Linked DNA regions of Homo sapiens. The protein of the gene in region 3 purifies or fractionates together with the protein of the main gene of each other region. This does not show direct contact. Each region holds a gene or a part of one and is shown on either strand. Other genes may lie near its edges. The genes, in order: MTERF3, ATRNL1, RNF157, HSD17B12, RIGI, MSI2 and FASTKD2.

Region 1 (3,921 bases), on a different chromosome or scaffold from region 3:
GAACAGAACATCTCCCTTCTCAGTCTCTGCTATTCTGCCCTTGTTCTGATAACTAAATTCCCATGATCACAATATTATGGATAACGAAGATGTAAGAGGTTTTAGATAGATTTTTTTTTAGAAGTATGACTCCTATGCAGTGATTCTTGGCTTAAAAAACTATCACCCGGCCGGGCGCGGTGGCTCACACCTGTAATCCCAGCACTTTGGGAGGCCAAGGTGGGCGGATCACGAAGTCAAGAGTTTGAGACCATCCTGGCCAACATGGTGAAACCTCGTCTCTACTAAAAACACAAAAATTAGCTGGGCATGGTGGCAGGCGCTTGTAGTCCCAGCTACTCAGGAGGCTGAGTCAGAAGAATCACTTGAACCCGGGAGGCGGCGGTTGCACTGAGCCGAGATCACGCCACTGCACTCCAGCCTGGCGACAGAGCCAGACTCCATCGCAAAAAAAAACAAAAAAAACAAAAAACAAAAAAAAACTATCACCCAACAACAGACAAAACCACAAATGGTTCTGGTGCTCCTAAACGATTACTAATTTCCTAAATATAATAACACTTCAAAGCATTTATTTAGCTTATGAGCAGATATTATACGTTTACTTCTCCAGTGGACCAAAGTTACTCCATCATTAGAGAGTTGTGTACTCTTTCAAGTCCAAAAGCTACTGCTCAGATTGCGGTGTTTCTCCCTTCTTTTTTTATGGATGTGGTGGTGTGGGGGGAGAGTTGTTGGCCACCAGGGGCTACTTTGCCATTGGCACAAAAATTTCATCCTATTAATGACATATTAAATTCTTCGGAGTTAAAAAAAGTGCCCCTAGCCTGAGAATTATTGGTTCCCTCTAATCCTAAGGTGGACTTCAACTTTGCCTTCACAGAAAGTCACAGAGGAAGGGGAGAGTGAAGGTTTCGGGGGATCCTGAATATAACCTCTTTCCTTAGCCTAGTGATTTCTTCACATTCATTACCCTAAAACTGCTTTTGTTATCCTTTACCTTCCAAGATCTCTTCTTTGAAATGACTAAATTGATCATAGTTATTAAGTTATACTTCTTTCCCCATTTTTAATTAATCGTAAGTCAGATCTGCCAACCAGGAATATTATCTACATGAGAAAATTAGTTCCATGCCACTGAGATTTAAACACCAGCCAAAAATGTAAAGTCTATATCAGCCCATTCACAGCCTTACTGTCCGTTAATGTATTTTTTCATTAATAAGCTTTTTATTTTTCTGTTTTTATTCCCCAATAATTCCACCTAGACTCTAGGAATCTGAGAATCCCAATTTGGAAGCCACAATTCTACAACAGAGCTTCTCTGAGGCAAGGGTTTGGGGTGCCTAAAATCTGTGTTTTTAAGTGATTTTGATGCATCTGGTCAGCTTATAATTTCTTCTATTTGGAAAGCTCCTCTCCATCTTTTAAACACCACTCCCTCTTCTACAGACAATTCAAATGTACTTCTAGCAGATCCTAGTAAAGGGCTTGGGTTTTTAAACTGGACTGTTGGAGTTCTAATCGTGGTTCTGCCCCAACCTTGTTACTTGGGTAACCTTGGACAGGTTACTTAAATCTCTTTAAGCTTAAGTTCTTTATGTGTAAAATAGGGGTAATAATAGCATCTACCTCATATGGTTGTTGTGAGAATTAACTGTGTTAATACAAATAAAGCAATAAAGATAGAGCTGGCACACAGTAAGTACTCAATTGCTGTTATTACTTCTATAATTCTCCTACCGCTTCTAAATCACTGTAGGAGCTCTGGTTAGGACTCTACCATCATATAAAGCAATTCTATTTTTAAACCTGTCTTCCACACTCGATTATAAGTTCCACAAGAACAGAGATCATGTCTGCTTGACTTTTGTATCCTCAGTGCCCAATGTGTAGCACTGATGGATGCTCAGTGATATACTGGAAAAATGAATTACCCACCAACCCAGGGAAAAACAAATTGTCATTTCTTTTTCGTTGAAGATTATTTCACAATTACTCCATGAGCCAAATTCACAAAACTGTAGGCTTCTAACACTTCTATAATGGGTATATTTACGTTTGGTAAAATAGGAAAATCCTATATTAGAGGCCCGTTCCTAGTGAAGTATAATAGGCAAATAAATATAGCTGTATGTGAAGGAACTGGACCTAATGCAGTCTAGTTCTGAGAGTTGTATTAAGGTCATATTTCTTTTACCCATCTTTTTTCAAAAACAGGAACATGTGTTCTAGCAAATGGAGTAGAGGGATCACTTAAATAAAAATTCAGTTTGTCATTTATCCAATAAATACTGAGTGGCTATTTGCATAGGAAATAGGAAAAAAGGATTACTTTGATAAAATCCAATCATTCATTTGTTCAACAAATATTAATTGTGTGCCTACTTAGTGCCAGGTGTAGTTCTAGGCACTGAGGATTTGGCAGTGTATAAATCAGACAAAGTTTCTGCTTTTAAAGAGTCAATATTCAAGATTAATATTCTTGTGAACAGCAGATAATATCACTCACTAGGTAAAGAATATGGAAGCTTGATTAGCTTAGAAAATATAATTACGGCTTTGGCATGATGGCAAACTGGATCACTTTTATATTGGGATGGGGATCATTACAATATGGCTTATTGATTCATGAATTTAAATAAACTGTGACTAAAAAGTACACGTAGCAGTGAAAGGACCTTTAAGGGAAGTGATCTATTCCAAAGTAAAGTAGAGAAAAACATGAGAGAGAAGAGAGACTACATTAGATTTGTTGGCCTGATTCCAACAATCAGAACTAGGACTAGGTAGAAACTCCAGGGAAAGAGACTAATCACTGATTTCTCCTCAGGAGATGGACATTTGCGCCCTGCAAATTGTAAACTCTTCCCAGCGTACAGAACTATGCAGCTGGAGAGCAGCTCCAAATGAAGCGCAATGGCAGCGCTTACAGAGAGAGCTGTGAGTGGCATTACCTGTGGGAACTTGACAATGATGTGGTGGGGAATGCTCATCACATTGTGCACAAAATCAAACGTCTCGGTAAGTTTCATTTTATTTGCAGTTAACATCTTTGGGATTCTGGTGATCATATGTTGAATTTCGTTATGTTTAAAACCAAGTTCAAGACGATAAACCTAAAAGAAAGTAAATTTGCTATGAATCGTTATGTAGAAATAGTTATTTTGGTACCATGGCAAGGCTGCACTGATTTTTTTTTTTTTTGAGATGGAGCTCGCTATGTTGCCCAGGATGGAGTGCAGTGGCATGATCTCCTGCCTCAGTCTCCCAAGTAACTGGAACTACAGAGGAATGCCACCACACCTGGCTAATTCTTGTATTTTTAGTACAGCCAGGGTTTCACCATGTTGGCCAGGCTGATCTTGAACTCCTGACCTCAAGTGATCCACCCACCTTGGCCTCCCGAAGTGCTTACAGGTGTGAGCCACCGCGCCTGGCCATGATTTTTTTTTTTGAGACGGAGTCTCGCTTTGTCATCCAGGCTGGAGTGCGGTGGCACGATCTCAGCTTACTGCAACCTCCGTTTCTTGGATTCAAGTGATTCTCCTGCCTCAGCCTTCTAAGTAGCTGGGATTACAGGTGCCCACCACCATGCCTGGCTAATTTTTGTATTTTTAGTAGAGATGAGGTTTCACCATGTTGGCCAGGCTGGTCTCAAACTCCTGACCTCAAGTGATCTGCCCACCTCGGCCTCCCATGCCAGGGTTACAGGCATGAGCCACCACGCCTGACCATGATTCTTTTAAACTTAAAATAACATTTTAAAATTTGGAGACAGCTATGCCAGTGCCTTCAAGGAATTACAGCTTCCGGCTCCTGGGGTCACCAGAATTTCAAACCCCTCTGCTGAGAAAGAGCTACACCATGATGGTCATGAAGCTCACCAAAGGGGCAACCATAATTACAAGAGGGAATGAG
Region 2 (4,567 bases), on a different chromosome or scaffold from region 3:
ACAAATGGTAGAAGTAGACAATGAAGCCTCTATAATAATCAAGAAAACAAAAGAAGCAAAAGATCAAAAACAAGAGAGACAATGGCAGACCTGAAGACCTGACTTATGCTTGCCTAGCTGACAATCCCACCAGCGGTATTTAGTTATCATTATTTGATTTGTCAGTGGTAGAATTTAATTCATACCTGTGTTAAAATAGTGAATTATGTTTCATTAACCTTCTCAAAAAAAATCAGTTACAACAATTTTTATATTTGCACTGTATAATTATATTGTTCTCAAAAAACTTATTTCAAATAAATAAAAAGTCTCAAAGGATTATAAAAAGAAAAATAGCTAAATATTAGCAAACAAAAATACAAAAAATGCAAACAGAGTTAAGAAATATTAAGATATATCTAGAAGTTCCAGCAACTATTTTAATATTTGCAACAAGAGTAAAGAGAAGAAAACATGTATTTTAAGACATTACACAACATTTTTAGCAGATGAAGAAACAAACTACTCTTCAGATTTAAAGAGCCAATGAGAAAATCTAAAAAATCTAAAAATCCTTTTCTTCAATGAAAAACTGTAAAAAAAAATTAATTTTAAAGATCCACATCAATCACTGAAAAACTGAATTAAAACAATGAAAAATTTTAGAATGCCAACAAGAAAGAAAAAAATCTTAAAAGCTCCCAAAGGGGGGATAAAAAAGATGTTCCACAAAGGAATGAAAATTAGATTGGCATTGGAATTCTTATCCACAACACTGAGTGCTAAAGAGGTTCCAAGGAAAAAATTATTTGGAATACCACATTTAGCCATTTTATCATTCAAGTGAAAATGAAAAGTACACTTTTAGACATGCAAAGACTCAAAAGTTTATGTCACAATTTATTTGAAAGAAATTACTAAAGATTATTTACCAATGGTTAAAATGGTAAAATTTATGTTATGTGTGTTATACCACCAAAAAAAATTGTAAAAAAACAAAAAAGTAGAACAAATGAGAAGGAATGGGATATAAGAAAAATTTGTGACAACATAAGCTTAATTCTAAATAATTTTTAGAAAGTTGTTAAGAGTATAAGAGCTTAGACTTTCACAAACCAGTTTTTCCCTACTTTCTAGCCTCTTTTATTGTGAAATATAACACACATACAATTACATAAAGAAAAATATAAGATTAATAAATTCCTATAAACACACACTCTGGACCTGCACAAAGCCTAGAAGTGGAGCATTGCCTCTCTTGTTTCATTTCCTAATCAGCACCCCTAAACTTCCCCCAGCAACATCCTCTAGCTGACATTTTTGAGAATACACTTTTGCCTTACTCTATAGTTTTACCACCTAAATACGCATTTCTAAACAATACAGTGCCGTTTTGACTATTTTTTAACTTTATACCTAAATGTAGTCAAACAGTATGTAATCTTTCATGTCTAGCTTCTTTCATTGAACAATAATGTTTGTCGAGAGACAAGCATGACTATTGAGGCAGGAGAAGGTGCGCATTGTCTCATTCCCCACAAGTCTTCAACTCTTGTATTCAACTCTCCTGGGCAGCTGGCTCCTAGTTTTGAAATGTTTTGCTATGCACAAAGGCCATTTTATGCCTGCAACCACCACACTGCCACCCACTTGATCAGGTACAACACCCCCATTCCTTACCACAATCCCTAAAAAAGGATATCAACAGGGAGCTCAACTCATAATACATCCAACCATGTCCATCCCAGGCATACCTCTCCACTTCATGCCAAGAGCCTGAAGGAACAAATGAACACAACAGCTGCAGCTGGGATTCCAGCCTGCATTGTGTTACTGTTTTGCCTTAGCTCTTCAAGTAACAGTGGTGCCCACTATGGACCAAATACATATTTGACTGGACCACTGAGAGTGATGAAAGGCCTAGAAAGTCAGTAAGTCTCTACGTGCATTGCCTTATGCAGTGGCTACCTCTAAATGGGAAGATGACTCATCTGAGCAAGAAGGACTAGTATCAACTGGGTGACCATGTTGTCCAAGGGCCATACACTTACAGGCTTCAACATACTAGATTTACCACCAACAGGGATCTCAGAATTATGAAGTTACTGTGATAGAAGTTATTAAGAAATTATTTTAGGCAGATAGAGAAAAAAGGAGTCCTTGGAAAGTTTTCATTTCTTTTTAAAACACCTCCAAAAGTGTTTCTTGTCTAACAGAAAAGTCCCAGCTCTTAGAGCCAAGCCGGCAACCTTTAGTATGCATATGCAAGCCATTAGAAACTGGGTCCACTCAACATGGCGATTCCCACCTTTGTCCTCTTGCCCTTGCCCCACATGTATTTGGGAATATGGCCGCCCCACATATCCCCATGTGTGTAGAACATCATGGTGCCCTGCATTTGCATATTAAAAGGCTAGGGTGGGAAGGCCAGTTTTTTTCCGAGGGCTACCTGAATGAAAGCCTGGTCAAACCAATCCCCTAAGCTCTATGCAAATCAGACACCCCCTCCTCCAGCCTCTACATATACCTGCCTGGTACGCACCACACTTGGGGTTTCCTCTTTCGGCTGTGGAGCCCCCATCCCTCTGTCTCTGTAAGAGCGAACCTTCTGCCTTTTCTTTTCTTTCTTGCCTATTAAACTCTCTGCTCCTTAAAACCACTCCACGTGTGTCCGTATTGTTTAATCTAATTCAACGTGAGACAAGAGCCCTGGTGTTCCTCCACTCATGGGAGCCATATCATTACTATAATTGCTAACTAGAATGGGTTGCCTCTCAGAGGAAAAACAAGAAAGCTCAAAGGAGGGAAGGAAGAGTGGACGGGCAGAAAATAAATATTGCTGCTGGGATAGTTGTTTGTATTTTCATCAGTCAGGCTGCCAGTGGCTGCTCCTATGGAGGGACTGCAAGAAAGTCAATGATCTAATAAGAAAGTCCTGAAGATACTTATGAACGTTATAGAAACAAGCTGTGTTATGGCCTACACTCCTAGGAAAACTCCAAGTGGCTGTTTCCTGGAGAGAAAGGGTCAGAGGGAAACCAGTGGACTGATGCAAAAACCTAAAATGGACCTTTGACCTTTAAAAGTTTCAAATATGACAAATGAAGAGAGATGATGATAGTGGAGAACTTAGGGCTGTTAGGAGAAAGGAATTAGAATCGGGATAAAGATCCCCTGGAGAGAATTCCTGTATAGAGAGGGAAACTGTTGCTTTCCCTATCTCATTGAATACATTTCAACCACAACATATTCCTGAGTTTAATAGATACACCAGACTCCAAGTGGCTGTTATTTTGTCTCCTTTGACTGAACTGTAACTACAGTTTCTTTGGAACCTGGATCAAACACACCAACATGTTAATTAGATTCACTCATTTCAAATCCTGTTTACTGCAGGTTAAAGTATTGGAAGAAAAAAAAATCCAAGGAGTCTTGCTCCTTTTTTCTTTGTGAGCTTCCTGGACACTCAGATGTTGAGAAGAAGGGAACTGAAAAAGAAGCAAAAGAACTTCTGATTTTATTTGTCTGTTTGGACTTTACCAAATAACTGATATTTTGCTTTGTTCAAATCAAAGCATCCTCAACGGACATAAACTTGGATACCGGCCGGGCGCGGTGGCTCACGCTTGTAATCCCAGAACTTTGGGAGGCCGAGCTGGGTGGATCATGAGGTCAGGAGTTCGAGATCAGCCTGGCCAACAGTGAAACCCCATCTCTAAAAAAAGTACAAAAATTAGCTGGGCATGGTGGCACATGCCTGTAGTCCCAGCTACTTGGGAGGCTAAGGCAAGAGAATCACTTGAACCAGGGAGGTGGAGGTTGCAGTGAGCTGAAATTAGGCCACTGCACTCCAGCCTGGGCCACAGAGTGAGACTCCATCTCAAAAAAAAAAAAAAAAAAAAACCTGCATACCAACTTTATCTCAGGTGATTCTGCAGCTTTCTATGGTGGTAGAATGGTAACTACTGGGCCCCTGAAAAGTATATTATTCAAAAAAAAAAGGACATAAAGTCTGGATTAATTACAAGAGGGACAGATACCAATGAGTGGGATATGAATGAATGCAACCAACATTGAGAAACAGGTCATGAGAGCAGCAGGAGTAAGTAAAACTTTCTACTTTTTTGTTCCAAATCTGAACATACCAATTAATTCAGGTGAAAAGGCATATTTTTGATGAGCGTCAGTGTCAAAGAGTGGATTGCAGAAAGATAAACCATATTCTCTGCTATGAAGAAGCTAGCTAAGATTGGCACTTTTTTCTCCCAAGCAGAAAGAGTTTCACACGGTCTTAAGTTCCTACAAGGCTAACAAGTGCTCCCAGTAGCATTATGCAATTCCCTTGGCAGCTGTATTCTGACGCCATTTGTGTTTGTAAGCAAGGCCACTCTCACCACATAGTACCCAGTATTAAATATTCATTCAGGTGCAGCCTTATCCTATAGTCCTTAGAAAACATGAGAGATCAGCAAGGGGCAAAATCTTTCTCCTGAAGTATAACTCATAGCAAGCCCAGTACTGCCCTGCTGACATAACTCTATGTGATTTCAAGACTGTGCATTCTATACTTGTAGCAGATATACCAACA
Region 3 (5,242 bases):
ACGTGTGAAGTGTTTAAAACAGCCTGGCACATAGAGTGTTCCATAAATATCCACTAATTTTATTGTGCTATGCCTTGTTTTTCTTTACTATTCTAAGCATTGGACTCATGACTCCTTCGTGGGAGGAGGAACCAACTTCTAGGCTTGGGGAGTATTATTCAAGATGGAGAAGCTGGCTTCCCAGGGTCAGGCCAAGGTGGGACCAGAAGAGACACCCCATAAGCAACAGGACTGGGCTGCTTGACTAAGCCACATCCCTGCCTGGCCCTGGCTAAGCAGAAGAAACTCTCAGACATGGATAAACCCACAAAGGGAAGGGATGTCCCGTTTACAAAATGCCGAGGGCAGGAAGAACCAAGGCTTCTGAACAGAGCCGAGGAGCATAAGGCAACATTTTACTCTGTGATGTGTCGAAGGCCTTGTGTTTTGAGGTGGTTCTAGATTCTTATTTGCATTTTACCTTTACCCAGCAGTTACAAGGTAGGGCCTGTGTGTGCTGAAAGGAGTATGGAGGAGGACACCAGTTCCCTCCCACAGGGATGACTGAAAGCCCTGGAGTAGTTAGGACCAGGGACTCTGCCAGAGAGCTCTGGTGCTTGGGAGAAGCTGCCGGGGCAGGGACTTGCCCTGTAACCCAAGCCTTCGTTAGCAGCAGCCAATATAAATGACAGGGATGTGTTCCCACCATCCTGAGGACCCTGGAGGAAACCAAGGCACTTAGCATCAGGTCTGTTGGCTGCTGCTGAAAAGACGGCAATGAAAAATACGAAATGTGCCGGGCGCGGTGGCTCACGCCTGTAATCCCAGCGCTTTGGGGGGCGGAGGTCAGGAATTGGAGACCAGTCTGGCCAGCATGGTGAAACCCCATCTCTACTAAAAGTAGAAAAATTAGCCGGGTGTGGTGGCACATGCCCGTAGTCTCAGCTACTCGGGAGGCTGAGGCAGGAGAATCCCTTGAACCCAGGAGGCGGAGGTTGCAGTGAGCTGAGATCACGCCACTGCACTCCAGCCTGGGCGACAGAGGGAGACTCCGTCTCAAAACACAGAAAAACAAAAACAAAATATAACCAGGAAAGACCTAGACTCCGTAAAATAGCTTTACAAACCTAATCAAGGGAACCAGACACCCCAAACTGTACTTCGAACACTGTTGAAAAGTTGTGAAAGTCATGTTCTAGCAGTTGAAATGTTTGCTGATCAGTCCACTCTCTCAGGAAAAAAAACACCAGACCCACAAAGAAAATAGAAGGTTTAAAACACAAATGTCTGTAATTAAGCAATGGAATGACGTCTTCCGCCGGCCCAAGCTTCCCACTGTTGTGTGTGTTTTTATCAACAGGAGCTCCCGGTTCTGCCTGGCCCGGTTCGCTTTCGCCTGCGTTGACTCTCTTGGCACTCAGGCCTTTCCAAAGTTTCCGGGGTCCCGTTTCCACGATACAGACAGAGGCTGGATGTCTTGATCTTATCCTCAGTCGATGTTCTCCTAACTTTAGGGCTACAAGGAGCCTTAAACAGCATGTATAGAGTTGGGAGCGCTTTGAATAGACGCACGTGAGAGGGAGGCGGCATCTTCCTAGCCGGTCACCAGCATTAACACGGGGCAGGAGACATGCGAATGCACCGTGGGACCCCTCTCCCTACCCCCCTGCATGAGATTTCCGAAGACCTCCGCCGGCCGACGCTGAGGGGCGGGGTTGGGAAGGCTTCCTCCAGGCGCGGGAGCAGCGGAGCGGGGACCGCCCGCTTTGGGACGCCCAGGACAATGGCGAGCGAGCTCCCGGCCAGTCCTCGCGGACCGCGGGAGGGGGCGGCTCCCTGCGCGGTAATCCGAGCCGGGATAAACAGGCGCGGAGGGGCGACGCGTCCCGGCCGGGTGCAGCGCTCGTCTCCTGGGGTCCCAGCTCCGGCCGGTCCCGCCCCGCCCCGCCGCGGGCACCCGGCCGCGCCCCCGTCCCCGTCGCGAGTCCCCGCCCACGCCCACGCCCCCGCCGCGAGGCCCTGGGCCGCGTCCACGCGCGCCGAGTCCAGCCGCGGCTCCCCGCGCGAGGCACGCGCCGCCGGCTCCTGCTGCAGTCCCGCGCTCATTGGCTGCTCCGGCGCGGGCGCTCCCGCCCCGCCTCGCCATTGGCTGGGGCCGCCGCGGTCCCCGCGCGGAGCGGCCGCTGACATCACGCGGCCTGAGGCGGCGGCGGCGCCCCCGGCCCAGACCCGCAGCCCCCTTGGCAGAGGCGCCGCCGCGGTGCCCGGCGGAGGATGGTGCGCGGCGCGCCGGGGGCTCCCCGCCGCCAGAGCCGCAGCGCCGCAGCGGAGCCGGCCGCGGCGGGCAGTCGGCCCCCGCACCGGGCGCGGGGCGGGCGGCCGCGGTGAAGCGCGGAGGGCGGCGCGGGCACCGGGGCCGGGCCGGGGCTGCAGCCGCAGCGGCCATGGGGGCCCTGACGAGCCGGCAGCACGCGGGCGTGGAGGAGGTGGACATCCCGTCTAATTCCGTGTACCGCTACCCGCCCAAGTCCGGTGAGGGCGGGCGGGCGCCGCAGCCGCGAGGAGGGAGAGGGGCAGGGGCAGGGGTCTGGGTCGGGACGGCCTGAGGGGGCCCCGCGGGTCTTCGGGGACTCAGTGGTTGCGGACGCTCCGAAACGGTCTTCGAGCGCGGGAGGTCTTCGAGAAGGCCGAGGTCTCCCCCGCCCCGGGCGAATTAGCCCAAGGGGCGTCCTGCCGGGTCTAGCAGGGTCACCGAGGGCACCGAGCCCCTCCACGGGAGGACGGGAGCGGCCTCCATTGTAATCGGCCCCGTGACGGGGACGCGTGCCCGCAGGGACCGAGGCTCCTGGGGAGCGGGGCTGCGGCGTCGTAGGCGAGGTCGGCGCCCCGCACGGACCCGGCCGGCCCGGCCCAAAGCCTACCTGCCTCGCGGGGTCCGAGGGCCGCGAGGGAGGCGACCTCGGCATCCAAACAGGCACTTGCGCCAGGTGCTATCCCTGCGCTGCCGTCTCCTGGCCTCTGGAAAGGTTAGAATTAGGTTTCTCCTGGAAAAGCTTCCATTGCCTGCTGAAGGATGGAAGCCAAACAGGCATTTGCAGTGCTGGTGCTTTTGCAGAGGCTGTCAGAAGCCGGGGGGTGGGGGGGGTGGTGGTGGTGGAAAGTAACAGAAATGTTTGGGAATCTGAGTATCAGAGTTACTCGGATTGCCCCTTTGCTAGCGTAGTGGCAAGCCTGGGTTTTGGAGTGGGACCAGCTCTGGGACAGGGCAGAGGTATTGGAAACGTATAGAAGTATGTTTGTTATTAGAATCATCCCTTCACTTAAATGTCTCTAGCCTCTGGATTGTGGTATCAGCATTGGAGGTGGAGGAGGATTTTGACAGCAAAGCAGAGAATCACAAGGTAGTTCAGTTATGTGAGCACCGGCCAGTATGAATTGCATGACCTAGCCGGTGTTTACTTTTAATTGCAAGTAGTTTTATTTTAATTAATTACTTTTAATTTTATTCTCAAGACTTCTGAGGATGAATGGCTGCGACATTCTGTCTGCTTAGGACCCGATGGAGATTTTGGTGATTTCGGAATGAGGTGTCAGAATTGGAGCAGAGCCTCGTCTCTTTTTGGTAGAATAGAGACATACTGAGATGAGCTGGTTTCTCAGCAGTGTGTCCAGTGTCTGCCAGGTGAAAGCAGGGGCCAGACGATGAACCTGCCCGCATCCCTGCAGAGTGTCTGCCAGAGCTGTGTTTCTCACTGCTTTTGTACCAAAGAATGAATCCTTGCAAAGATGAATATGGTGAAGAATTGTTTTAGAAAGGTCTAAGATAAAGCTGTGGGTCGTTAGTATTTTAATAAAGCTCTGACTGATTATGACTACATAAAATCAACGCTAACCAAGGCATAGATTTTGTTTTTTAATAGACAAAAATATTCTTAGGGCGGCATGAGGAAAACTTTTTAAAATAGACAAAAATATGCAGCAGTATTTGTGGGCTCTGTTTTTCTTAAACCACATGGCTTTTATTGATCAAAATATGGAGCATACTTTGCTGAGCTTGGAATTTTCAATAGTGTTTGCTGCCTCAGGAAAGTATTCACCGCTCTTTCATATGTGGGACTTAACATAGGTAAACCTCTGGAAGGCTGTTCCCCAAAGCATATTTGTACAAGTATGAATCTTGGGTGATGATAATAAAAAGACAATAGACCAAACCAAAACTTTTGTTAATTAGCACACTCAATAAATAATCCTCTCCTCTCTACCAGTTTTAAAAGTTTAACTGTAAAACTGTAATTCATGTTAAATCAGAAGTTATACATGAGAGAAGTCTTTATAGCAAGTGGACCACATTATTTCTGTTGAAGCTAAAACATAGAAAATAGAATCAGAACATCCTGTCTCTGTCAGCAAACCTTTGTGTATTTGAAACCTTATGTGAGCTTGCATATATGCTCTAGACGGAGGCATCGCCTTTCTTCTGATCTTTGAATTGACCTGGCTCTTTATGGGATTACAGTATTAGTCCTGAAAGGAACCGTTGACAGAGTTTGGCCATGACCACCATGCCTAGCTAATGTTTAATTTTTTTTTTTTTTTTTTGAGTCATCGTCTCTCTCTGTCACGCCCAGGCTGGAATGAAGTGGTGCAATATTGGCTTACTGCAACCTCTGCCTCTAGGGTTCAAGCAATTCTCCCGCCTCAGTCTCCCAAGTAGCTGGGATTACAGGTGTTTGCCACCACACCCGGCTAATTGTTTGTATTTTTAGTGGAGATGGGGTTTCACCATATTGGCCAGGCAAGTCTTGAACTCCTGACCTCTCAGGTGATCCGCCTGCCTCGGCCTCCCAAAGTGCTGGGATTACGGGTGTGAGCTACCACGCCCAGGCAAGTTTTTTGTAGAGACACTCTCTCACTATGTTGCCCAGGCTGGTCTTGAACTCGTGGTCTCAAGCAATCCTCCCGCCTTGGCCTCCCATTCATTTCACTGATAAGAAAATGGAGACCCAGAGAAATGAATTGGTATGGCCAGGGTCTCTCAGCCAGTTAGTGTTCTTCCTACTATACTGTCTGCCTCCACCTCTCAAGGAATTGGGTTTTGAACTTGTACTCAAAAAACAAGACTTAAAACAATCATTCCATGATTATGGAATGAAGGCTATTTCGTGTCATAATTGAAGTCCCTATAGAGGAATCAACCTGGGTTGATTTTGAGAAGTCTCCTTATCCTGAGTACTAACAGTGGAACAAAGCAAGTGGCAGAGTC
Region 4 (3,756 bases), on a different chromosome or scaffold from region 3:
AGGGTGTACCTAGATGGCTTTTTGATATCTAAGATATTTCTTTACTTTCATATAACTTGGAATATTTATTTTTAAATCATTGGCAAGTAGCTATAAGTATGCCTGTTTAGATAGGTGCTCTTATATATGCTTCAGAATTTCTAAAATTTTGGCTTAAACATTCATATTATCAACTTCTTGGTGTAATTAATTTTCTGGATCATAGCAGTGGAAAGAGACCCCAGTACTCTTCTTCGGTGCTGTCCATAATGAAGTGTCTTTCACCAATTCATTCAATAGATATTAATTGTACCCCTGCTATGTACCAAGTACTGTTCTAAAACATTAAAATATATGAATATGACCAAGCCTTCATGGAGCTTGTGTTCTAGAAATGGATACTGCCCAGTGATTGGATTCAGTTTTCTGTACCGTTTTGCCTCCCTCCTGCCACTCTTCACACATTTCCAACATTTGAACCATCCTGAGCTATGCAGTTCCCTGAAAAACATCATGCTCTTCTGTGGCTCCTTTTCTTGGCTCCTGCTGTTCCCTTATTTGTTTACAATTAGGGAAATTCTTGCACTTCATTTAAGACTTAGCTCAAACGCTGTTTCGTCTTTGAACCCTCCACTAGGCCATGTTAACTGCCTTGATTTTAAACCATCGTGGAAATAAATATACTTTCTAGAAAAGAATTTACATTTCTTAGCTGGAAAAACATAACCCAACTTGGAATTCCTGAGTATGCATCTCTTGTCCCCACCCCTTGATCTGGGGGTTCTCTAGACTAGCTCTATGGTTTAGCTGCATGAAGAGTTAACTTGTGGCACCACCAAGTGGTTCAGTCAGGCAGTGCAACTTAATTCTCCTACAAGATCAAAGTAGTCCAATTTATACCATGTTACATACGAAGGGAGGGAAGAAGATGGCAAAAAGGATGGACGAAAGGAACAAAAAATTATAACGCAGTTGAGAGGTATAATGATTAGACCATCTCTACCTCTAGAAGCTCAAAATCTTACAATACCTTTACCAGGCTTGTGATCTATATTTGGGTTTTTTTTTTTAATCTTCACTATTTTGTGACCTTTAAACCTAATGCATAGAAATGAGAAATGGTTTGCTTATGTTCCTTCATTATGTGAGATCAGAGTATTTACATATACTCTTTCTTTCCTTACTGCTCAACTTTACTCTGGGAAATAACCTTTTCTTTACTGACCCATTGTGAGAGCCTCACTGAACTCTGCATTTCCTACTCAGTCTGAGTCGGAGATCTCACCCTAGTGTGTGCTCTCATAGACTATATCCTTGTGGCAAAATGGTCCTTAAAAGATGTGACAAAAAATTTTTTTTTCTAAGTGAGGGATAAATATATAGTGATAATCCCAATAAACAAATTCTCAGAAATCAAAAGTTACCTAATCAAAGTTGGCTCAAATATTGAAGTACTTCATACTTAGTATGAGTCTGTGGCTGCAGCAACAAGGAAAGAGGAAGATAGAGAGTGACAGCACTCCATCTGGGGTTCTTGGTTCTAATGAAGAGGCTGAGGTTTCATCTAACCTGTCAAGGAGAGTGGGTTGCATTCCTTGACTTAGACTTCGGAGTGGGAAAAATGCAAAGCACACACGTACATAAAAACCCAGAGACGGCCGGGCGCGGTGGCTCACGCCTGTAATCCCAGCACTTTGGAGGCCGAGGTGGGTGCATCACAAGGTCAGGAGATCGAGACCATCCTGGCTAACATGGTGAAACCCTGTCTCTACTAAAAATACAAAAAATTAGCCAGGCGTGGTGGCGGGCGCCTGTAGTCCCAGCTACTGGGGAGGCTGAGGCAGGAGAATGGTGTGAACCCAGGAGGCGGAACTTGTGGTGAGCAGAGATCGCGCCACTGCACTCCAGCTTGGGGACTCTCGCTGAGACTCTGTCTCAAAAAAAAAAAAAAAAAAAAAAAAAAACCAGAGACATGGGACCACTCCTTCTAGGTCTCAGCAGGACGGAAATCCATAGAATGGAACAGATCTCAATTTGATTGAAATTTTAAGATTTTGACCACCATGTGTTAGAACCATTCCTTTTCTTTAATGGAAGTGTCATTGGGCCAAGCGTGGTAGCTCACACCTGTCATCCCGACACTTGGGGAGGCTGAAGTGGGAGGATCACATGAGCCCAGAAGTTTGAGACCAGCCTGGGCAGCATGTTGAAACCTTGTCTCTACAAAAAAAATTTTAAATTAGCTGGGCATGGTGGTGCACACCTGTGGTTCCAACTACTCAGAAGGCTGAGACAGGAGGATCCCTTGAGCCCAAGAGCTCAAGGCTGCAGTGAGCTATGATCGTGCCACCGCACTCCAGCCTAAGCAACAAGCAAAACCCTGCCTCAAAAAAAAAAGAAGAAAAAGAAAAAAAGAAGTATCATTGCAGTGATACTTCACACATGTGAGATAAACAATACATTCACTCTTTGTTGAACTACCATGCCCAGGTTATTTCAAACTACAGAAGGACCTCTTGTATCATGACTCAGGACTTGTTACAATAGGGTTTCCTTATACTCTGTGTTGAATCACATCCAAAATGCAGCAAGCTTAAGCAATAAAGAACCTAACATTATTGAAGTTCCTCTAAAGGTCATGTCCAGATTTGTCACCCTACACCCATCCAGTCAGGTGTCTTTTAGTTACCCAAACAGTTTCCATATTGTTAGACTGTGTTTCTTCTAAAAAAGAAAAAAAGGGAGGTGGTTCTATCTTATCAATAAAATTGTTTATAAAACTCAGAAGTAGAATGGTGAGAAACTAGGGAAGAAAAGTAGTAACGCAAGTCTGAGAAATAAGATGTCTATTTTAGAAGGATCAAAGCTGATAGAACAAGCTTAATTAGCCATAAATTATGGAGAAAGTTGGCATTATCCCATTAGAAGAATAAAGTATCAAAGATCTCCTACTTGGTGGTTCTGTCTCAATGTTGAGTTTACTAAGTGTGAAAAGTATCCTATCCTGAATCTGTGCTCTCTGGATTATTTAATGCTTTCCTTTTTAAAGGTTCAAAAAGGTAGATTTCTGCTTATTTTTAATACTTTCTCTGGTCTCAAACTCTGTTTTATTGAGAGATTGATTTGTTACAATTTGTTTTATGGTATCATGTGTTCTATCAAGTTGGCTTTAGATAGCCACTTCTCTTTTCTTCTCTCTCTGTAAAGATACAGATGTTTCTACCACTAAGAGCAGTCAAGCACCACTGTACATTCTGAGTTTGTGGCCTTACTAATCAATGGCATGTTTTCTGGGGTGGGTGTTCCCTTTCTAGAGTGTCCTGCCATACTTCGTAGCTACAAAACTGGCTAAAATCCGGAAGCCAACTTTGGATAAGCCCTCTCCGGAGACGTTTGTGAAGTCTGCAATTAAAACAGTCGGCCTGCAATCCCGAACCAATGGATACCTGATCCATGCTCTTATGGTAGGTAGATTTTTTGAATCACAAATCAATACTTTCTGGCTTGGGGTTTCTTTCCCATTGAGTTACAGGATAGTATGTAATAGATTAGCACATATACATTGTCCAGCCATAGTAACAAGATATCTATATCTTGTTATAATTATAATGGTCGTATACCCAAGAACTTTAAAATCTACCTATAAATAAAAACAACACTATAATAAAACATTAAATCATATGCTTCAATTTAGCCCAAATTGTAGGCTATAATTACATATCTCTCTCATTCTGTTTCCCTAGGGCTCGATAATCTCAAACCTGCCTTCTTGGATTT
Region 5 (4,567 bases), on a different chromosome or scaffold from region 3:
TTATCCACCACATCATTCTCCCTTGGTTTCCGTGATGCCTCCTTGCCCACATATGTGGCACTCTTTCCCAGTCTCTTTTCCTCCTCTGCTCATCTCTTAAATGAGTGCTTGCACAGGATTCCGTCCCAGGCTCTTTCTACTCACACTCCAAAAAGCAATCTTGAAACTGACCACAGTCCCACAGACATTTATTCCAGAAAAACAGAAATTGACCCTTCTGGTCTTTAAACTTGAAGCTTACACTTGTTTTATCTGAGATCCTTTCTCAGGCAAAAGACCACCAGGCCTCTCAAAAAGTATCAAACTGAAATTCACCAGATTATCACATCCAGACAATGAGGCCAGGCCCCTCATTCATCATGATTGCTTCCTGAGTTCCTGTTTTCCCACACAGTTACATTTCTTCCCTGCTATATAAACCCCTAATTTTAGTGGGTCAGGGAGATGGAGTTGAGACTAATCTCTCATCTTCTTGGCTACAGCTCCCAATTAAAGGCTTCTTCCCTGGCAATACTTGTTGTCTCCCTGTTTGGCTTTCTGTGTGGCTACCAGGAGGACCTAGGCCAAACCCCTGGTGCTTCAGTAACAGATTTTTGTGGCTGGGTTGCTGTGGTCTAGGAGTCTCAGAAGCCCTCCTAAGCAACTGCCCACCCAATTTTGGCTGGAAGTGAGTTTTGGTCTCTCTGGCCCTGCTGCTGCCAGCCCCAGCTGAGTTCCTGATTGCTAGGAAGAACAGCCTTTGAAATGTGACACTGGCATCTGGATAAGTGAGTGTCCTTTCTTGGCCCAGACAGCAAGATCTGCTCAATTTGAAAATTTTAAAAGGAGCTTCCATTTGCAGGTTAAACCAGCCCAACTGACTAAGAAAGGGAAGCACCCTGACTCTCAGTATGATACTCTAGAGAGCGTGTTTGTAATTTCTGTGTTTGTGTCTGGCCAAGTTAGTGTCTTTTTTGGGTACCAGACAGTGGGATCGGCTTCTCTCAATTTGGAAAATTCCTAAGAAATTTCTGTTTGCAGGTTAATAAAGCCCGATTGAGAGAGAAAAGCACCTCGACTGTTTCAGTTTGGACACTGTTCGGGCTTGTCTATTGCTTCAGCAGTCGGATTGTGTTTTGTTGATTGTATGTGTCAATATAGTAATGGGAAATTAGAATTCAACAAACAAATATTCTTTTGTACTACGTTTGCCCCAATATTCTTTGGAATCTGGAGTTGGCTGTTGAATGGGAAAGCCAGGTGGAGTCCCATGTATTCTGGCTTTTATGCCGCTGTTTTAAGCAGGGTTGGGCCTGGTGAGTAGTTTCCACATGACGTTCTTCTGTAGTGCTGTTTGGCCCCAGGTTTCTTTGGAATCTAGCTTCTAAAAATCAAACTGCCATGGAAACTGCTTTACCCAAAATTCTGGTTCACAGCCTTCATTGGATTACCGATTGGAGCAAACAAATTTTAGCCATGTGGACTTGGTTGTAGATTCGTGAGTTTGTATTGCTATCTCATGGCTAGAGTTCCAAGGTAAAAGCTGTTGGATCTTTGTGTGTGTATACATGTTTAGATGTGTTTATCTAGATGTACATTAACTATGTTATACACTATACCTACCAAATTGGCTTATAAATAAGAGTGCTCATAAATTAAGTCCAAAGTGTTTTTCAAGTTCACATGACTTCAGTAAATCTTTAATAAACAAGCTGTCTTTAAAATTATTGGTAAAATAAAAATAGAAATGTCTTCAGAATTGTCAGCATACATTTTTGTCTCGGCTTTATATTTGTCTCAGCTAGATAATTTGAGGTATCAGAGTTTGGCAGCAGGTTATAAAGCTATAAACCCAGTGAATATTTGTGTGAATTCTTTATAAGACTAATTTAATGCTGTTAGTTTAATGAAAACAGCTGAATCTTCTGAGTTATTGATCAAAATGCCCACGTATTAATTTTAAGGTTATTTAGGTGAACACCTGACATTCACAGGTTATAAAATGGTTAAGAAGGAAATGATGCAGAAATAATCTAGATAAACTGCTAAAAATAAATAAAATGTAAATGGTCAAATGCTGTAAATGAACTTTTGGCATAATCGGAAATATAATCATTGGATGTTTGAGTCATTTCCAATTAAGAAAAGGTTATGATGTGGGGAACATGTTTCTAAAAATTGTGGAATGGTTCTCATCTATAAAATACTAATATCTGCTAGGCAGCTCAAGATTTCTTGCTTCCTAGGTTTTTACTGAAATTTAAGGTTGTTACTAAGGATAAGAATTCTAGTTCATATGTAATTCTATATATAAAATGTGCAAAAGACAATGTGTTTTTATTCAGAAAAAAATTTTATCTAACTCAGAAGTTATCTAAAGTTTATTAATAATTATGGACTTGAAAGGTTACTTATGAAACAAGGTAGAAAAGAACAAGTAGACGAGAGAGATGTGGAGAAAGTTATGAGTATAAAGATGTATTTTTGGTAAGGAAGGTTATAAAGAAAATAATTTTGTATGACAAAGCATCTTATAATGGTATTTTTTTTGTCCTAAAGTAAAATGACTGTTTAAAAAAAAAAAAAGAAGAAGAAAAAGAACGAAAATCCAGGACAAATCAGAAAGTCTAAGCATATCATAGATGGTGTGTGTAAGTCATGTAGTTTCTTTCCTATTTCTTTGTGTGTCTACCTTTATGTACAGACAGAGAAAATACAAAGTATAAAAGGCTTAAATAATATTCTCTTAAAACCAGATAGAATATTGGAGAAATCTGGCTAATTAACACTGCTCATAGTTAAAGCTCTTAGTCTTGATGAAAGTAAAATAAGAAATATTGTAAAGAAACACATTGGCAGTTTGGCAATCCTTTCTTAATATAGTTAACCATGAAGCCAGATAAAAGCCAGATATAGCAACAACCAAATTTCACCTACATGCTTGCATTGCTTCACACTGTATTTGCTCTTCTGCATAGATATACTATCATTACAGTATAATACTTACTGGTCGGCCTCCTCCAGAGTAGCTGGGATTATAGTTGTGTGCCATCATGCCTGGCCAATTTTTGTATTTTTAGTAGAGATGGGGTTTTACCATGTTGGCCAGGCTGGTCTCAAACTCCTGGCCTCAAGTGATTCACCCATCTTGGCCTCCCAAAGTGCTGAGATTACAGGCCTGAGCCACCACGCCCAGCCTAAAGTGAATTTCTTAATTGCACAAAATATATAGTGGTATTGGTGAACTTAAAGACATTAAATTGTGCATCAGGAACAAAATATTCATCATGTGTTTTTTTGGCTCTGGGTAACACTATAGCCTCCAAGTTAAACTGAGTAGAAAATTTTCAGGTTGGTTTCCTGTTTGTTTTTTCTTTTAATTTGCATTTATTTGCTGTTTCTTCTTCTTTAGGTTTTACTTATATATACATATTAATAAAACCATTGATGGCTTTTAGTTTCTAATGTAAGGAAGGCTTTTATTTGGTTCCATGAATAATCATTTTGTTTCCTATGCATTTCCAGTATCTCATCATTTGCTCTACTTATCCAAAGTTCCTAAGCTACCTTTTTCAAGCTTCCAAAAATTGTTGGTGGACACCAGCCTTTAAAATTTGTTTGGTTTTGCTTACCTCTAATGAACTAGAGAGCTATAAGAACTTTAAGATTCCTGGCAAAAAATAATAAAAGGTTTATTCTTCTAAGTTCTGAACAGAAATAGTACATTATTATTGGTTATTTGGAAAAGTAGGTGAGAGAAATGTTTAAGTGGTGTTTATTTCCAAGGTAATTCAATTCAATAAACAATAGCGGTTTCAGATCTTTTCCTTTAATGAGGCAAAACTGCTATATGGGTACAAAGTCTTAATATTCAGAAAAAAATTGGCTTTGTCTTTAAGGAAATTATATTGATTGGGCTTTCTCTCAAACTAATTTAGTTGTGTTTACTATTATTAAGATTAAATAACATTTACTTGGATTAAGTCATAAAAAAAATTATAAGACTTTCTAGTGTTTTTTTTATCCTAAGCCATTTATCACTGATGGGCCTTCACATGTATACTTGAAAACAAAATATGTACATACAAGTGTTATGCCAGTTTGAAGATTCTAGTGGTGTAAGTCACTTAAATCAGTTGTCAGTACTTTATCTAGAAACCAATCTTGGAAATGTATGATGAGGCTCTTTCAAAATAGCTGAAAAGAAATTACTGTGTGCTTATTGTCACTTTGTCCTTGTTTTGTTGTATACTTTTTAAATGAAAGATTTATCTTCATATTGAATTTCCAAAACTGATACTTGCATTTACCATTTTTTTTTTTAATGATGGAAAGAAAAGTTAACTATCTTACTTTGGTAAGTTTGGCACAGGACTTACCACATTTTTGAGGCTCTAGGTCACAGTTTTGTCACTAGAATGCTAGCAGATAAATGCAAGGAGTAACCTAACCACTTTAATACAATGGATTGTATAATGGGTTGAAGTGTTTCAGACAGTAACTACTAGGCACCAAATCCCAGGGTTTTATTTTGTGACATATTAGAGAGAATGATGAGGTTTCCTGCAGTATAAATATGCTATTAAAT
Region 6 (3,900 bases), about 19 Mb from region 3:
GCCTGCTGGGGCTTTGTTTGAATCAAGCTAATGGGCGACTGGGATAGAGCGCGAGGCTGTTTGGTATAGAGCGCGAGGCTGTTTGTTCCCAGTGGATATAAGGAAGGCCACGAGCCAAGTCTGTGGAAGCTGCTAGAGAGCAGACCAAGGCTTGGTCATCTCCGTCAGCCCCATGCCCAGCTAGGACCGGGAATGGGTCCGGGAGCTAATGCCACTCACTCGCCTCTGCTTGGGAGGAGAGGAGTTCGGGGGTCTCAGGCAGATGGATCTGGAAGCCAGAAAGTCACCCGGTGGCTGTTTGATAATTCCGGGGAAAAGCCATCAGCCAAGAGGGTTTCTCCCCCAGGGAAGGCGAAAGGTGGTTCCCATGTTCGCCATTGAGCTTAACTGAAACAAAGACGAGGCTGAAACATCAGTGTTAAAAGAATTTACAAAAATCTTTCAAAATGGACTTCTAGATGGAATGGGGGGACTAACGTGAACCTTAAACCTAGGTAGCCACATTAAAACATATCGGATTTCCACAAGATTTGTGCTATGGGCTACTGGGTCTCTTCAAAAGGTATATAAACATCTAAAACATATTCACACAGATTATCAATTTCTTCTGAGCATTCTTAAAAAAATATTTTTTCTCTTAGTAAAATCATTTTAATATACCATGCCTCCCTCTTTTAAAAAATAAATTAAAAAAATCCAGTTTTGCATATCTAGCATTAGCATTTAAGGTAGTATGGCACCCCTTCACAGTGGGTGGGGGGGGGGGGATCTACAAAACGCCGTAGAGTCCGCCGGCATTTTAACATGGTGAGACCTTGGGTTAGTTGAAACCACATCAGATCAGCTAAAATAAAATTAAACTTGAAATTGAAAAAAATAATTAAAGGAAAAAACTGCCCCAAAATTATTAGCATTTTTTTTCATAAATAAGAGAAAGTTCTATCCTTACTGGTCCTAAATCTGAATAACTATGTCTAATTTTTTTTAAACCTTAATTATGTTATACCTATCAATATGTACTAGAAGAAAGAGGAGAAAAAAAGTCGCTACACTAGTACCAGGACAGCACGCTTACAAGATAGCCATTTTATACATTATTAACATACAATGATCAACAAAGAGTCTTCTATGAGGTGATGGGGGATGCAGAGAAAAGGAAGGGAAGTACAGTACATCACCAACATGGACAAAATAGGAATTAAATTCCCTCGTCTAAACACTGAATTTCTGGGAATTTACTATTTTTTCTTTCTTTTTTTTTTTTTAAATAAAACTTATGTTTTGTTGTTTTATGACTTGAACAAGTTTTGATATTTTAAAAGCGCTCAGCATTTAATCTGGTTGTTTGGGGGAAAAGAAAAGAAACAAAGAAAGGAAAAAAACAACAAAAAAACCTCACCAAACAACCTAACATTTTATTAGAAAAACAAAGAACATGATTTTTTTTTTAATTAAAAAAAATGTTGTTGCTGTTTCATTAGAATTGAAAACGGGTTTTTTCTTTCTTTCTGAGTTAGCATTTTGGAGTCTTTAGTTTGAAGATGCTTTTGCCCTACCATGTCTGTGAATGTCTACATTAGTCTACTTTGTTAGTAAAATTTATAAAAATAGGAGTGCAGCAGCTCTTTATAATAAATGTCGCATTCAGTGTCTCATACTGGCTGTGCCTTAAGTACCAAATTTATAAACGTAACAATTTAAAAAATATTAATAAAACGTCAATATCACATTTTAAAAAAGAAAAAATATATATCCACACTACAATATGTTTTAATGCCATCTATTGAGTTGTACTTCTATAGTTGCTGTTGCCGACCTATTACCAATATTTAAAAAAAAGTTAAATTAAAAAATATCCTTCATCATAAGTATCTTTCCCCAACCGAGGACCATATATTATAACAGCCAAATGTTAAACATGTGCAAAGAGGAAACTGTCAGTTTTTCCCACCAGTCACAGTGCAGTGATGTTTATACTTTTTATTTTTAAAATTCTGTTTACATCTACAATAAATTAAAAAAAAATTCTTCCATAGCCTCTCTGGTGATACTTGCAGCACTGAGGTATTAAAAAAAATATATATAAACCAAAAGGTTGCTTTCCTAATTTGTAAATAGAAAGTGAATGGAGAAAGGTTGTATTAATGCAGGCTTATCCACTCCTGGCCCATGGGCCCCCAGATGTGGGAGCAGGGTGGGGGGCAGGGGGAGAAGAGAGGCAAAGTGTCCTAGGGACCTTTGGAGGTGCTGAAATGATTGGACAATAGAAAATGATCAAATATTTAAAAATTAAGACTGAAAAAGAATGTCCCCCCCACCCCACCCCCACCCAAGCCAAACAGGTGTGCTTTGAAACTTTAAATATGTTAAATATTAAAATTGTAGCTTTGTTTTTAAAAAACATCTTGGGAAAAGCAGTTTTTCATATTTTAAATAAAAATCTAACTAGACGGTAACATTTGAAGCTGTGCACAGACAAGAGGTTAATAGGCTGGTACAACACTAATACAGTTCTTAGGTCTATCACACAGACAAAGGAGCTAAACAGTGCTCTAACTTGTCCTGGGGTGGTCCTGGCAGCTGGGCGATCTTCATCTCAGTAACTGACTTGGCCAACGTTCCCTTCCCGCCTCCTTCCACAGAGCATCAAACTGCCTGGGACCGACTCCCTCACAAAAATATTTTTGATTCTCTCTTTCTTAATAGTTTCTATGTAGTTAATGGAATTGTATTTACAACATTTCTTTTTTAGAATTCACAATTTCAAAAAACCTTATAATATCACCTCTTTCAACAGAAAAAAAGCACTTATAGAAAAGGAGGACACTCAAAACACTGTCGTCCTTACCTTATTGCCGAAAATAGATAGACTCAGATTAACAAAGAGACATCACAAAAAGAACTGCTAGAAAGTCTGTTAATTAGCTTACTACATCTCACTTCTTCTACAACGCAAAATAGAAAGCTCACGCCCACCTCCCGCCCTGCACTTCACAACTTTGCTTCAGTGTGTGCTAAAGTTCCACCTGAAAATTCATACAGTCTCAGAATTGGTACCAAAATATGGAGAGTCATATTACCATCTCAGCATCCTTTAAAAGTGAGAACAGAACCAAAACAAGCAAAAAAAAATGTTTTAAGAAAAAATAACTCCTTAATATAACAATTATACTATGGTTAGCTTTGAACTAGATATTAAAGCTATGTGACTACTGGACTAAGTCAAAATCACTACCAAATGTGATTCAAAGAGATTTAAAAGGAGAATGGGAAGAGAGGGAGGGAGAGGGAAACCATCAAGAAAAACAAAACAAAACAAAACCGAAATCATGGGTTATATACACATTTAAAAGCTGTTGTCTTATATTACAGCAGATTCGTGAGATGATGAGATGTAGTCAACCCTCGATCCGAAGTGAGCCATCTCTGGTTGGGATGGGGAGTGAGGCTGGTGGGGGTCCAGGTCTGAGGACATCACCTAAACAAAGGGCCACTCAGAAACTTCGCCCAGTCTTGCCTGGACATCCAGGTATGCTCTGCAGGGCAGGGAAGGCCAGGATGTCCAGAAGAAAACATAAAATGGAGGGGAGAGGGGAGGAGAAAGAAGTGTCAGACAAGTATGCGATTTCCTCCACTGTTTTAACTAGAGTTTCAAAGATGGACTTCACTGGACTATTGAATACGCACGAGAATCACCTGGCTAGAAGCTTACTGAGATCACAGGTTGGGAAATCTGACATCTAAACCATACCTGACACTGGGGAGAGGACAAGGCTTCAATTCTTTTGCTGATTTGATATAGTACCATAGGGTTGTTGAGGTAGTGGTGGGAAATGTGCTTACAGGGATTGCAGCCAGGTGGGCAAACTGCCCATTGACCTGAGATACCTTTTTTCTGTT
Region 7 (4,567 bases), on a different chromosome or scaffold from region 3:
TTTGCAGAAGCTGATTAAAAGGAGCCAGGGGAAAGTAATTCATCAAGCAAAATGAATATACTGCATCCAATAAGTTTTCAGAAGAAATAGTGTGAAGATAACCAGTCAGAGCACTAGCCATAACTTCCACGAACTGTCTGGGGAACAAAGAAAAGTCAGTTTCCCAACATATACAGAAGGCCAATATCTGTAACGATTCCAAAGAAAAGAGATAAGAAAATCAGCCTTGCAAGTAAGTATCCACACATCATTCTGGACAGTTGGTTATCTCATAATAAGTGTATACATTCAATAAATGTTGGCTATTGCTGTATGTCTTGCACGAGACAAACATTTTATAGACTTTAACTCATTTAACTCACACTAAAAAACTCCATGGGTATTACTATTATTCTCCTCATTTAAAAAAATGGGTAAACAGGCTTAGAGATTGAGTAACTTGTCTAAGAACACACAGACAAGGAAGTAGCAAAGGCAGTATTAGAACATAAGGTGTCAGGCTCCAGAACCTTTTCATAATTATGCTAGATTTTCTATAACGCCTGGACCACCACTACAGTTTTATAACCAACTAAAATTATCTAGTTATCAATACTATGGGTTAAAAGAACTGCAAGCCTAATCCTACCACCCACAGCTAATGGTACACAGTATAACGTGGTTAAGCACAAATGAAGACAGAAAAGATCAAAATCAGGGGCAGTCGCTTGCCCAGAGTGACACCACTAATAAATGGTAGATACCCTTTGAACACACGTCAATCTGATTCTCAGGGCATATGATACATATAGTTATATAAAAAAAGAAATACATGCAAAGTACTGTGATCTCGCAGAGGAAAGAAAATAAACAGAAGCTTTTGGGAGGAGAATTTGAATAAGTGGAAAAGATGGAATAAGGGAAGAAGATTTGAGCACAGCCCTGAAAGCACATGCTACTTGCCTGATAGTGAATAACTGGTGAGATGAAGGTACAGAGGAGTGTTTCTTAACAGCTGGGGCAAATATGCCTGGACACAAGCCCTTGTTAACAATGAGACTGAAATCAACTGAGAGGTCCATGGGTAGGGGAAGAAGTGTTGGGGAGGATGAAGGGCTGTGATAAGGCCAGGAAAACGATAGGAATTATGATGAAATGGGAGGAATATAACAGATCATATACGCAATAGCAAGGCAGCACGTCTGAAATTAGTACTGACTGCTTTTGGAACATGCAGTGGGATGCGGGGGCAGGGGATGGTGTGGACAAGGAAGTTGGGAGCCTGGGTAATGATCCCCCCTCTGGTCTTCTCTTGCCCCACTCCTCACCCTGTACCTCATGCTTCAGCAGCCCAAACTGTGTGCTGTTCCCTGCATGTGCTCTGCTGTTTCTTTCCTCCAGGTCTTGCATATAGAGGGCCTTTCACTTGGAATGTTCTTTCCTGCTTATCTTTCCATGGTAAAACCCCATCTCTCCATCTTTTAAGATCAGCTCAGATACCAACCCCTCCAGGCAACACTGCCTGATATCCCCTGACCCTCCTCTTCACCAGGCTGGCATCCTGATATATCCTTCCTCTATTTCCAAATATCCTAGATGATATGGTTTGGCTGTGTCCCCACCCAAATCTCATTTTGAATTGTAGCTCCTATAATTCCCTTGTGTTGTGAGGGACCCAGTGGTAGATAGCTGAATCATGGGGGTGGTTTCCCCCATACTCTTCTTGTGGTAGTCAATAAGTCTCACGAGATCTGATAGTTTTATAAGGGGAAACCCCTTTTGCTTGGCTGTCTCTCTTGTCTGCTGCCCTGTGAGATGTGCCTTTCATCTTCTGCCATGATTGTGGGGCCTCCCCAGCCATGTGGAACTGTGAGTCCATTAAACCTCTTTCTTTTGTAAAGTGCCCAGTCTCGGGTATGTCTTTATCAGCTGCGTGAAAACAGACTAATATGCTAGATCACTCGAATTTTCATGCTATATTTAACTGCCAATTTACATATCTACCTTACCCATTACACAGAATCCTCTGGCAAGAAGGACTGTCTTATTCATCTTTCTCCTAAGTGTCCAGGTGCTTGGCAAATGCTGACTAAACGAACAAATAAACTTTGATGAGGAAGACAGGAGGACGAGCTTGTCATTGGAAAACGATGAGTCAAGAAAAATAGCTGACTTCCAGAATTACTGAACTTGAGACACTTCTGGGATGTGCAGTGACCATATGCAACCCACAGAGACTCAGGTCTGGAGTTAAGGAGCACACTAATGACCACAGATGCAAATGTGGGATTATCCATAAGGTGGTAAATACAGATCAAGAAGAGAAGAAACCAAAGGACCAAAACAACAGAGCTTAAACGTTACATATTTGTTCCTTGGGTTCAAAGCCCAGCAAGATACTCTGGATTTAACACCCTCTCCCCGATGGGCCATCATAAATGAAATAATGATTAATGTATAGCATGTGGGTATACAATAAGCCAGAATTCCTACCACTCTCCTATCTAACCATCTCTTCTAGTCAACTCTCTTCCCAAATACTTTGAGTTATTCTGCTTCCAAAACCTTTGCTACTCCAGATAAGTTGCCATCTTCCTTTCTCCTTCCTCCATAAAGCACTTACTTGGTGCCTACCATGTACTGCCTTCCTCTGGATATACAACAGAGTTGTTCTCATAAATGGTCTAGGAAGAGCAGGGAATACAAACTTCTTTTTTTATAGCCTTCAAAATACCAAATCCAGGCAATTGTACATTCATGGGCATTCAGGAAATGGTGACTAATTAATCTTGCTATATCTGCCATATTGCCCCTACTTCTCCTTTGGAGAAATGTTGAGGTGGGAGGCTTAGAATTAGGTAAGGGTTTCTCAATCTCAGCACTACTAACATCCGGGGCTGGATAATTCCTTATTGTGAGGGGCTATCTTCTGCATAGTAGGATGTTAGCGGCACCCCTGGCCTCTGTCCACTAGAGGCCAGTAGCACAGACCTCCCTCCTGTTGTGGCAACTAAAAACCATCTCCATACCTTGCCAAATGTCCCCTGGGAGGCAAAATCATCCCTGTTTGAAAACCACTAGGTTAAATGAAAGCAGAATAGACAGACAAAAAGACAACATTCATGATTCTCCTCCTGTACTAATTCTACTACTGCCATTTTATTAAATGTCCTCCCAGCCTTTGTTACCTTTGTTATCCCCCCTCTATTTTCAATGTAACAATTTTGTTGGAACAAGTTATCTCTCAGGTTGCCTGGAGTCACCTGAAAAACTCTTACCCGCCCAGTACTTACTCTCTTAATCCCTCTGGGGCTGTTTCTGGAGTTTTAATTACCACTTAGCTTGATATTATTTGTCTAGAAAGTACAAGGCATCAATGGGAGCCAGCCTCAGAAGAAAATGAAGCCAGGGGAGTAAAGGAAGATTGAATTTGGGAGATATTTTTCGACCTTTATTAAATGTCTACTCTTTGGCAGGTCCTGTACTAAGTTCAGAAAAACAGGCAGCTGGGTCGGACTCCGGAGAGCTTACCAACTGAGGAGCAGAGACAGACTTACTGACACAACAAATGATGTGACACAACTTGTCATGTCTTACCCAGTCTCCGGTGCAGCCTGTTGTCAAGGCTGCACCGGAGACTGGGTAAGACATGACAAGCACAGGGACTCTGACGGTGACAATTAGGGAAGACACAGGAAATGCAGTATGAGCTGAGTCTGTCCATTCAGTGGACAGTACAGTGGGAAGCTGCTTTTTAGTTGGCCTGACACCACTTAATTGATTAACTGCCCCTAAGGGATGGGCATTTGACTCAAACTCAGTCAATCAGATGTTCTCTTTCAGAAATCTAAATCTGGAGGGAAAACTAAAAGGAAAGCAAGCAGCTGGAGTCAAGTCATTTGATGGCAAACAGATGGCCTGTGCATCTTGCCACTGAGACCTTCACAACTGCCCTAGTTTGTTCCCCCAAGGCCTCTGTGACCTACACTCTAATTTTTTTCAAATCTAAAAATTACTATGTGCTGGGCATTGTCATAAGAACTTGACATAGATTAACTCATTTAATTCTAATAACAACCCAATGAGATTAGACATAGCTCATCTCCATTTTAATAAGTGAATAAACTGAGGCACAGATAAGTAATTTGCCAAAAGTCAAGCAGCTAACAAATGGCAATGCTGAAACTCAAACCTAAGCAAGCTAGCTCTAGAGTCCATGCTTTTAATCACTGTTTTAACAAATGACATTTTATATGCTTTTCTGATTTTTAATGAACCCTGACTGATCCAAAGAGTAAGAAAAGATGTTCTGGGTAGAAAGCAGAGGTATGAAAGAAGCTGGCACATTTGAGGAATTACTGTATTTAATAGTAGGAATGCATGGCTGTGGTTAAAATGAAAAGAATAGAAAGCAGTAGCTTGAGACCAAATGAATAGTTAAGGTCAAAACTGAACTAGAAGAAGGTCCAGTTCTCACAGCTTCTCAGAAACACTGATTTAGCAAGGACATATAGACAAAAATACCTTTATGAAAAGTCCAGAAACCAATTAAGATATTGTCGTACTCCAGACAAGAACAAAACCAAGA

The links.
Region 1: the proteins of RNF157 (region 3) and MTERF3 purify together in Homo sapiens (affinity purification with mass spectrometry, with the first as the bait; one large-scale study listed by BioGRID). This does not show direct contact.
Region 2: the proteins of RNF157 (region 3) and ATRNL1 purify together in Homo sapiens (affinity purification with mass spectrometry; one large-scale study listed by BioGRID and IntAct). This does not show direct contact.
Region 4: the proteins of RNF157 (region 3) and HSD17B12 purify together in Homo sapiens (affinity purification with mass spectrometry, with the first as the bait; one large-scale study listed by BioGRID). This does not show direct contact.
Region 5: the proteins of RNF157 (region 3) and RIGI purify together in Homo sapiens (affinity purification with western blotting; one study listed by BioGRID). This does not show direct contact.
Region 6: the proteins of RNF157 (region 3) and MSI2 purify together in Homo sapiens (affinity purification with mass spectrometry, with the first as the bait; one large-scale study listed by BioGRID). This does not show direct contact.
Region 7: the proteins of RNF157 (region 3) and FASTKD2 purify together in Homo sapiens (affinity purification with mass spectrometry, with the first as the bait; one large-scale study listed by BioGRID). This does not show direct contact.

Annotation. Positions count from the first base shown.
Region 1 is NC_000008.11:96,240,962-96,244,882, forward strand, and holds part of MTERF3 (transcription termination factor 3, mitochondrial isoform 1 precursor), read right to left. Parts: intron 3,120-3,921; coding exon 2,958-3,119; intron 1-2,957.
Region 2 is NC_000010.11:115,302,537-115,307,103, reverse strand, and holds part of ATRNL1 (attractin-like protein 1 isoform 1 precursor), read right to left. Parts: intron 1-4,567. UniProt on the Homo sapiens protein: May play a role in melanocortin signaling pathways that regulate energy homeostasis.
Region 3 is NC_000017.11:76,237,422-76,242,663, reverse strand, and holds the start of RNF157 (E3 ubiquitin ligase RNF157), read left to right. Parts: upstream 1-2,170; 5' UTR 2,171-2,423; coding exon 2,424-2,511; intron 2,512-5,242. UniProt on the Homo sapiens protein: E3 ubiquitin ligase that ubiquitinates APBB1 for its degradation by the proteasome and thus prevents apoptosis and promotes survival of neurons.
Region 4 is NC_000011.10:43,851,422-43,855,177, forward strand, and holds part of HSD17B12 (very-long-chain 3-oxoacyl-CoA reductase), read left to right. Parts: intron 1-3,293; coding exon 3,294-3,443; intron 3,444-3,722; coding exon 3,723-3,756. UniProt on the Homo sapiens protein: Catalyzes the second of the four reactions of the long-chain fatty acids elongation cycle. This endoplasmic reticulum-bound enzymatic process, allows the addition of two carbons to the chain of long- and very long-chain fatty acids/VLCFAs per cycle.
Region 5 is NC_000009.12:32,515,833-32,520,399, forward strand, and holds part of RIGI (antiviral innate immune response receptor RIG-I), read right to left. Parts: intron 1-4,567.
Region 6 is NC_000017.11:57,679,185-57,683,084, reverse strand, and holds part of MSI2 (RNA-binding protein Musashi homolog 2), read right to left. Parts: intron 3,537-3,900; coding exon of another isoform or gene 3,495-3,536; 3' UTR 1-3,494.
Region 7 is NC_000002.12:206,782,303-206,786,869, reverse strand, and holds part of FASTKD2 (FAST kinase domain-containing protein 2, mitochondrial), read right to left. Parts: intron 3,637-4,567; exon of another isoform or gene 3,562-3,636; intron 138-3,561; coding exon 1-137. UniProt on the Homo sapiens protein: Plays an important role in assembly of the mitochondrial large ribosomal subunit.